Homo sapiens: one gene and its partner. The protein of the gene in region 2 purifies or fractionates together with the protein of the main gene of each other region. This does not show direct contact. Each region holds a gene or a part of one and is shown on either strand. Other genes may lie near its edges.

What was found. The genes of interacting proteins can lie anywhere in the genome.
Region 1: the proteins of OCIAD1 (region 2) and XPO4 purify together in Homo sapiens (co-immunoprecipitation; 2 studies listed by BioGRID and IntAct, with this or other methods). This does not show direct contact.

Annotation. Positions count from the first base shown.
Region 1 is NC_000013.11:20,794,747-20,798,246, reverse strand, and holds part of XPO4 (exportin-4), read left to right. Parts: intron 1-1,189; coding exon 1,190-1,483; intron 1,484-1,990; coding exon 1,991-2,171; intron 2,172-3,500. UniProt on the Homo sapiens protein: Mediates the nuclear export of proteins (cargos), such as EIF5A, SMAD3 and isoform M2 of PKM (PKM2). In the nucleus binds cooperatively to its cargo and to the GTPase Ran in its active GTP-bound form.
Region 2 is NC_000004.12:48,833,869-48,837,721, forward strand, and holds part of OCIAD1 (OCIA domain-containing protein 1), read left to right. Parts: intron 1-3,853. UniProt on the Homo sapiens protein: Maintains stem cell potency. Increases STAT3 phosphorylation and controls ERK phosphorylation. May act as a scaffold, increasing STAT3 recruitment onto endosomes. Involved in integrin-mediated cancer cell adhesion and colony formation in ovarian cancer.

The sequences.
Region 1 (3,500 bases), on a different chromosome or scaffold from region 2:
TTCCCCTTTCTATATCAGTTATATTGAACTAGGGGCCCACCCTATTCCGGTATGACCTCATCTGAACTAATTACATCTATGACAACCCTATTTTCTTTTTTTTTGAGACGGAGTCTTGCTCTGTCACTCAGGCTGGAGTGCAGTGGTGTGATCTTGGCTCACTGCAACCTCCACCTCCTGGGTCAAGCGACTCTCCTGTCTCAGCCTCCTAAGTAGGTGGGATTACAGGTGCGCACCACCATGCCTGGCTAATTTTTGTATTTTTAGTAGAGACGGGGTTTTGCCATGTTGGCCAGGCTGGTCTCCTGACCTCAAGTGATCCGCCCACCTCAGCCTTCCAAAACGTTGGGATTACAGGTGTGAGCCACTGCATCCGGCCAACTCTATTATCAAATAAGTTCATATCCTGGGGTTTGGATTTCCACATATGAGTTTTTGAGGAACACAGTTTGACCCATAACAACAACCATGGGCACATTATTTAATAGGCTTTAAATCAAGGGCCAAGAGTTGCCAGTGTGTGTAGGTTGCCAGCCTGCAGTCCTTGTCTAGAGGGCCCTTAGTGTTTGAGAAGGGGCACAGTAATGGAATTAGGCAGTTGTTTGTGACTTCAAATCCAGGGGAAACCAGACTGACTAAGTATTTTTATTTTAAACAATTGTATTATCATATGGACAACTTAAAGTCGAATTAAGATACTGTCCTCTTGAATATGAGTACTCTTATATACAGGGCAGGACTGATTATCTGAAGTTACGTTCTGTGCCAAGAGGAATTAGGTAAAGGAAAAAGGAAAAAAACAGACAAGAACTTTGAATTGGGCTTCACTCTGTAGAGGTCGGCAAGCTGCAGCCCATGGGCCAAATGTGGCTTACTGTCTGATTTTGTAAACAAAGTTTTTTTTCCTTTTTGACTCATTACTTGGAAAGAGATGGAGGGAAATGGCAGAATTCTTTGAATGGCAGGGAGACAGTTATGTCCCATGCTTTGGGTGTTCTGGCTTTACATGAGCGGAAAGTTAGGATGACCCTCAAAATGGGGAGTGTAAAGTCTGGTTTAGATATTCTTTGTTATGTGCTTGTCCTGCCTCCAACAATTAGAAATGTTTTGGAAAGTGAATATGTATCCAAGCAGAGGAAATAAAGCATGAGAACTGAGCTTTAAGAAAATTCCTGGTTTATTTTTATAGGTTCTTCAGCCACTTCAGCAGCGATTCTTAAGAGTGATAAACCAAGAAAACTTCCAGCAGATGTGTCAGCAAGAGGAAGTCAAGCAGGAAATCACTGCCACACTAGAGGCCCTGTGTGGCATTGCTGAGGCTACCCAGATTGACAACGTAGCAATCCTGTTTAATTTTTTAATGGACTTCCTTACCAATTGCATTGGATTGATGGAAGTTTACAAGAATACCCCAGAGACTGTCAATCTCATTATAGAAGTTTTTGTTGAAGTTGCACATAAACAGATATGCTATCTTGGAGAGGTAAGCACTTTCTAATTTTATCCCCTCAGGATTAAAACTCTTTGAAGCTGTAATAAAATAATAGATCTTTGCTTAAAATTTGATTAGTATTATCTTAAATAATATTTTTATTCCTTCAAAAGATTTTTAAAAAAGATTTTTGAAAAGAACTTATAATTTAGAGAAAGTCATGTTGAATGAATGTAAATTTTTTTTTTAATTTCTTCTAAAAGGAAACAGGATACATATACAGAACGTTCAGATTTGTTACATAGGTATATGTATGCCATGGTGGTTTGCTGCACCTGAATATAAATTCTTGTCCTAAAATTTTGTTAGAAAAGGGGTAAAATTAAAAAAAATATACTCTTAATATATGCTTTCTAGAAATTATTGTTTTAATGTAGTTTAAAGCAAGAATTATTGCTACTGTTGGAATTCGGAGTTAATTTATATAGATTATATTTTAAAATTTTTTTAATGTCAGTGTACCAAGTAGCATAATTTGTGCATTTTTTTTTTTTTCAGTCCAAAGCTATGAACTTATATGAAGCCTGCCTTACTTTGTTGCAAGTGTATTCTAAGAATAATTTAGGGCGGCAAAGAATAGATGTTACAGCAGAAGAAGAGCAATACCAAGACCTGCTTCTCATTATGGAACTTCTTACTAACCTGCTGTCAAAAGAATTCATAGATTTCAGTGATACAGGTAAAATGTAACGTGATGGTTTTTAAACTTTGTTGTTATCCTCCTTTTTATTAAATCAAAGGATTGTTTTCTGTAAGAGACATCTCATGAGGAAATTCAATTTATGGAATAAATGAAAGAAGATCTTTGTGGTCAAAGTGAGGGTGAGGACCAGTGGCCCTCCTGCTTGCCTTTCCTCTTGTAAGAATAATAGAAATAGTATCTCTCATTCATTGAGATCTTACTAAATGCCATGCACTGTTCTTACCTCTCACAATGGTATGAAGTCAATCCCATTGTTATTCTCACTTTATAGATGAGGAAACAGAAGCACAGAGAGCTTAAGTCACTTGGCCACAGATACTTAGCCAGGACTGGGATTCAAATCCCAGCCTGTGACTCCAGATGCCAGTCTCTTCAGAGTTACACTTCCTGACTAATCACTTCTCCATGTTCCTCACGGTGGCCACCCCAGAAACCCTAGCACTTTCCAGAGTGTGGCTTGGAAAGCCCTGTTGGTGTAGGAAGCACTCTCTCTGGAGTTAACAGCCCACACTTTGAAGACCTAGCCTAGTGTCTCACCTACAGTATGATGTGAGGGGAGTTGATTAGCCTACCTGTGTCTTTACTAGCTGGTCAAATGGGTATGATAATAAATACCTTTCAGTGTGTTTGAAGGATCAGCTGTAAAGTGTCTTTGGTGCCTAGCATTGTGTCTGACAATCAGTAGGTAAAAGATAGTTGCTGTTACAGGCAAGAACCTGATCAGTAATTTAAACCTCATATATGTGTATAGTTTTCAGTGCTGTAGAGTTCACTCCCCTCCTATCTCACTGCCAACCTTGACTTCAAACAAAATGGATCCTGTTTCATGACAGAAAAATGAATCATATCTAGCCTCTCCTATTATATGTTGTGCAGACACGTGTGGTAGTGGACATTTTTGGCTTCTTCCTTGTAAGATTCTCTTTCTAAGTTGGGTGCTATAATATCCACTTGACTTATTTATCCCAATCCTTGAGATTGTTCTGTTTCCTTAATTTTTTCGTATTCCTTATTCACTGGACCATGTCTTTTTTTTTTTTTTTTAAATTCTTGGGCAACGGTTTTTCCAATATCTGCCCTGAGCTAGGTACCATCAACTTCACAGTGTAGAAGGTTTACTCTTTATTTTTTTTGCAGTTAACTAGGGGTACCAAGGTGAGATAGTCTGAAAAGCACTGTACAAATTCACTTTTCCTCAGTGAATTCTTTCTGGTCTGTTTTTAGGCCCAGCCTTTCACCCAAGTTTTCTAACTTTCTTCAGGTCAGTTCTGCTTAATCCAGGAGTTCTTAACTTTTTCTTTCTTT
Region 2 (3,853 bases):
GAGTTGAAAACAGGTCTGTCTGAAACAGATTTTACTCTTAATGCTTTTAACCATTATATAATAGCAGATTAGTTCCCATTTTATCATTGTGAAATGTTGTTATACTACCAGCTCTTGATTTCTGATTAAAGAAATATATATATATTTGTGTATATATATATATCAAGATTGTATTTTTTAAATACAGAGATTGTTGGAAGCAGTATACAAAATATACTCTCACTATTTAACAAAGAATTGGTATTGCTTTACTTGGAAACTGTAGTCCTTTCAGGTAAAAAGGAGGATGAATTTTTTTTTGTTTTTGTTTTTGTTTTTTTGAGATGGAGCTTCGCTCTTGTTGCCCAGGCTGGAGTACAATGGTGTGATCTCAGCTCACTGCAACTTCTGCCTCCTGGGTTCAAGCGATTCTCCTGCCTCAGCCTCCTGAGTAGCTGGGATTACAGGCATGTGCAACCATGCCCAGCAAATTTTTCTATTTCTAGTAGAAGCGGGATTTCACCATGTTGGCCAGGCTGGTCTTGAACTCCTGACCTTAGGTGATCTGCCTTGGCCTCCCAAAGTGCTGGGATTATAGGCGTGAGCCACCATGCCTGGCAAATTTTTTTTTAAAAAAGGCAACTTGGCACGGTGCCTCATGGCTATAATTGCAGCACTTTGGGAGGCTGAGGCAGGAGGATTGCTTGAGCCCAGAAGTTCAAGACCAGCGTGGGCAACATAGAGGGGCCTTGTCTCTACCAAAAATGAAAGAAATTAGCTGGGTGTGGTGATACGTAGCTGTAATCGCAACCATTTGGGAGGCTGAGGCTGAGGTAGGAGGATCCCTTGAGCTGGGTACATAGAGGCTGCTGCAGTGAGCTATGATCACATCACTGCATTCCAGCCTGGGTGACAGAGCCAGACCCTGTCTCAAAGAAAAGAAAAAAAGGGCAACTTAAGCCATTAAGGAGGATGTATGTTTTCATCAGTCAGCCTGATATGTATGCTTAAAATGTGCAAGGTACCTGTTGGGAAGATAAGTTTTATGAAAGACAGACTTTGTCCTGAATTAATTTTCTTTTTTGTTTGTTTGTTTTTGTTTTTGAGACGGAGTCTCACTCTCTTCCCCAGGCTGGAGTGCAGTGGTGTGATCTCTGCTCACGTCAACATCCTTCTCCTGGGTTCAAGTGATTCTCCTGCCACAGTGTCCTGAGTATCTGGGACTACAGGCGTGCGCCACCATGCCCGGCTAATTTTTGTATTTTCAGTAGAGACTGGGTTTCACTATGTTGGCCAGGCTGATCTCGAACTCCTGACCTCAGTTGATTCACCTGCCTTGGCCTCCGAAAGTGCTGGGATTACAGGTGTGAGCCACTGCGCCTGGCCCTGAAGTAGTTTTATATGTGGTGAGACAAAGCTAATACATGAAACACTTAGAGATTAAGTGTGTAACTGCAGAAGACTTTTTAAAGAGATAAATTAATTAGAATTGACTTACTGAAATTGAAAAATTTGAATAACTTTTGAGATTTTAAAACTCAAAATTTTCTCAAAATTTTACCAAATTTCAATTTGGTAAAAACTGAAGCCTCTTACAATTTTACAGTTGTGTTTTTCTGTAACATAAGGTGGAATACCTGAGTTGGAAAAAGACCTTTATTTGTTAAGCAAACAATACTTTAACAACTTTATAATAGTACTGTAGGCCAGGTATGGTGGCTCACACCTGTAATCCCAGCACCTTGGTTTTGTTTTGTTTTTTATTTTTGTAGATACTAGGTTTTGCCATGTTGCCCAGGCTAATCTTGAACCCCTGAGTTCAAGCGATCTGCCTGCCTTGGCCTCCCCAAATGGTGGAATTTCAAGCATGAGCCACTGAACCTGGCCCCAGCACATTGGGTGGTTGAGGCAGGAGGATCGCCTGAGACCAGGAGTTTGAGACCAGCCTTGGCAACATAGTGAGACCCTGTCCCTAATCCCCCAACAACAACAACAAAAGAATTAATAGTTAATAAGTAGATAAGTGAAGAGGAAAGGTGGAGTAGCATTTGGAAGAAAGGAGTAGTGAACAAAGGCAGAGTTTGCAATAACTTCATCTCTGCTGGAGCGGTGAGCCTGAATTGATTGGAACAGAGGTCTTTCATTGAGGATAGAACGTAAAACATAGTAATGAGTTAAAGGTTTGATCCATTATATCGTTTAGGTTCTTGAGCAGAGGGGGGTGATATGTAAGGTTTTTTTTAAGGAAGGTTAGTTAACAGTGTGCAAGATGGGTAGAAGGGTGAGAAGTTGTACTTGGTAAAATCTGTTTTGAGCTTTTGGCAGTAACTTAGGCATATATATGTAGTCAACGATGAGATATAGTTGATTAGTGTGTCATTTGGACTGGAAAAGATGAGCTGGCAACGAAAGACTTTTTAAAGGACAAATAAAAGGATTTTTTAAAAAGTTCGACTAAGGGGGAATGAAGGAATGGTAAGAGGGAGGTAATAGCTTTAAGATAACCAGCTTAGGAGACTCAATGATACCTCTGAATAAAAGGTTCATTTAGAAGGAGTTCTTGTTTGAAGATGAGTTTAGTTCAGACGTTTTGAGTTCATGGTGCAACATTCGATTGTCGAAGATTTCTAAGCAACTACAGATAGAAACAAAAGCATACATGAAAAATTAGTTTATTGTGGAGTTGTGTTGGTGAATTCGCCAATAAATTAAGTGTAGAGATAAAAGCATAAAACTGATAATAGTTTCTGCCCTGTGATTAATACTTAGGATTGATAGAATAAAGGATAAAGTTTGGATAGTACCCATGGATAAGGGAACAAGTGATAGTGAAAGAATCAACAAAGACCAAGAGCAGTTAGGAAGATAGAGGAGCTCTGATAGAATCTTTGTCATTTTATCCACCAATATTCAGAGACTTGCAGGTATTTCAAGCTAGAAAGAACCTGAATAAGAATTAGGTGATGATGTCCATTTTAAATTTATGATGACTATGCATCTAAAACAGTTATTCTCAACTGGGAGCAGAATAACTGGAACGAGTTGAGAATAATTGTTATAGATGCATAGTCATCATAAAGTAAGGGCTTCTATAAAATTTTCATGGCTCATTAGAATGGGAATAATTTCTTTCTTTTTTTTTGAGACGGAGTCTCGCTCTATCCCCCAGGCTGGAGTACGGTGGTGCAATCTTGGCTCACTGCAAGCTCCGCCTCCTGGGTTCATACCATTCTCCTGCCTCAGCCTCCCGAGTAGCTGGGATTACAGGCGCCTGCCACCATACCTGGCTATTTTTTTTTGTATTTTTACTAGAGATGGGGTTTCACCGTGTTAACCAGGATGGTCTCCATCTCCTGACCTTGTGATCCACCTGCCTCGGCCTCCCAAAGTGCTGGGATTACAGACGTAAGCCATCGTTTTTTTTTTTTTGTTTTTTTTTCTTTTTTCGGTGTTCTTTTTTTTGTGACTGGGTTTCACTCTTGTTGCCCAGGCTGGAATGCAATGGCACAGTCTTGGCTCACTGCAACCCCTGCCTCCTGGGTTCAAGCAATTCTCCTGCCTCAGCTTCCCAAGTAGCTGGGCTTATAGGCGCCTGCCACCATGCTCAGCTAATTTTTGTATTTTTGGTAGAGAAGGAGTTTCACCATGTTGGCCAGGCTGGTCTCGAGCTCCTGACCTTGTGATCTGCCCACCTCGGCCTCACAAAGTTCTGGGATTACAAGCATGAGCCACTGTGCCTGGCCAGAATGGGAAGAATTTCTTAGAGAACTTGGCTGTATACTCCAGCAACAGTTCTTTTTTTTTTTTTTTTTTTTAAATCTTTGAAGATTATATAGAGTAGATAGGATAAAATGATCTATTTTTAAGTCTTGAT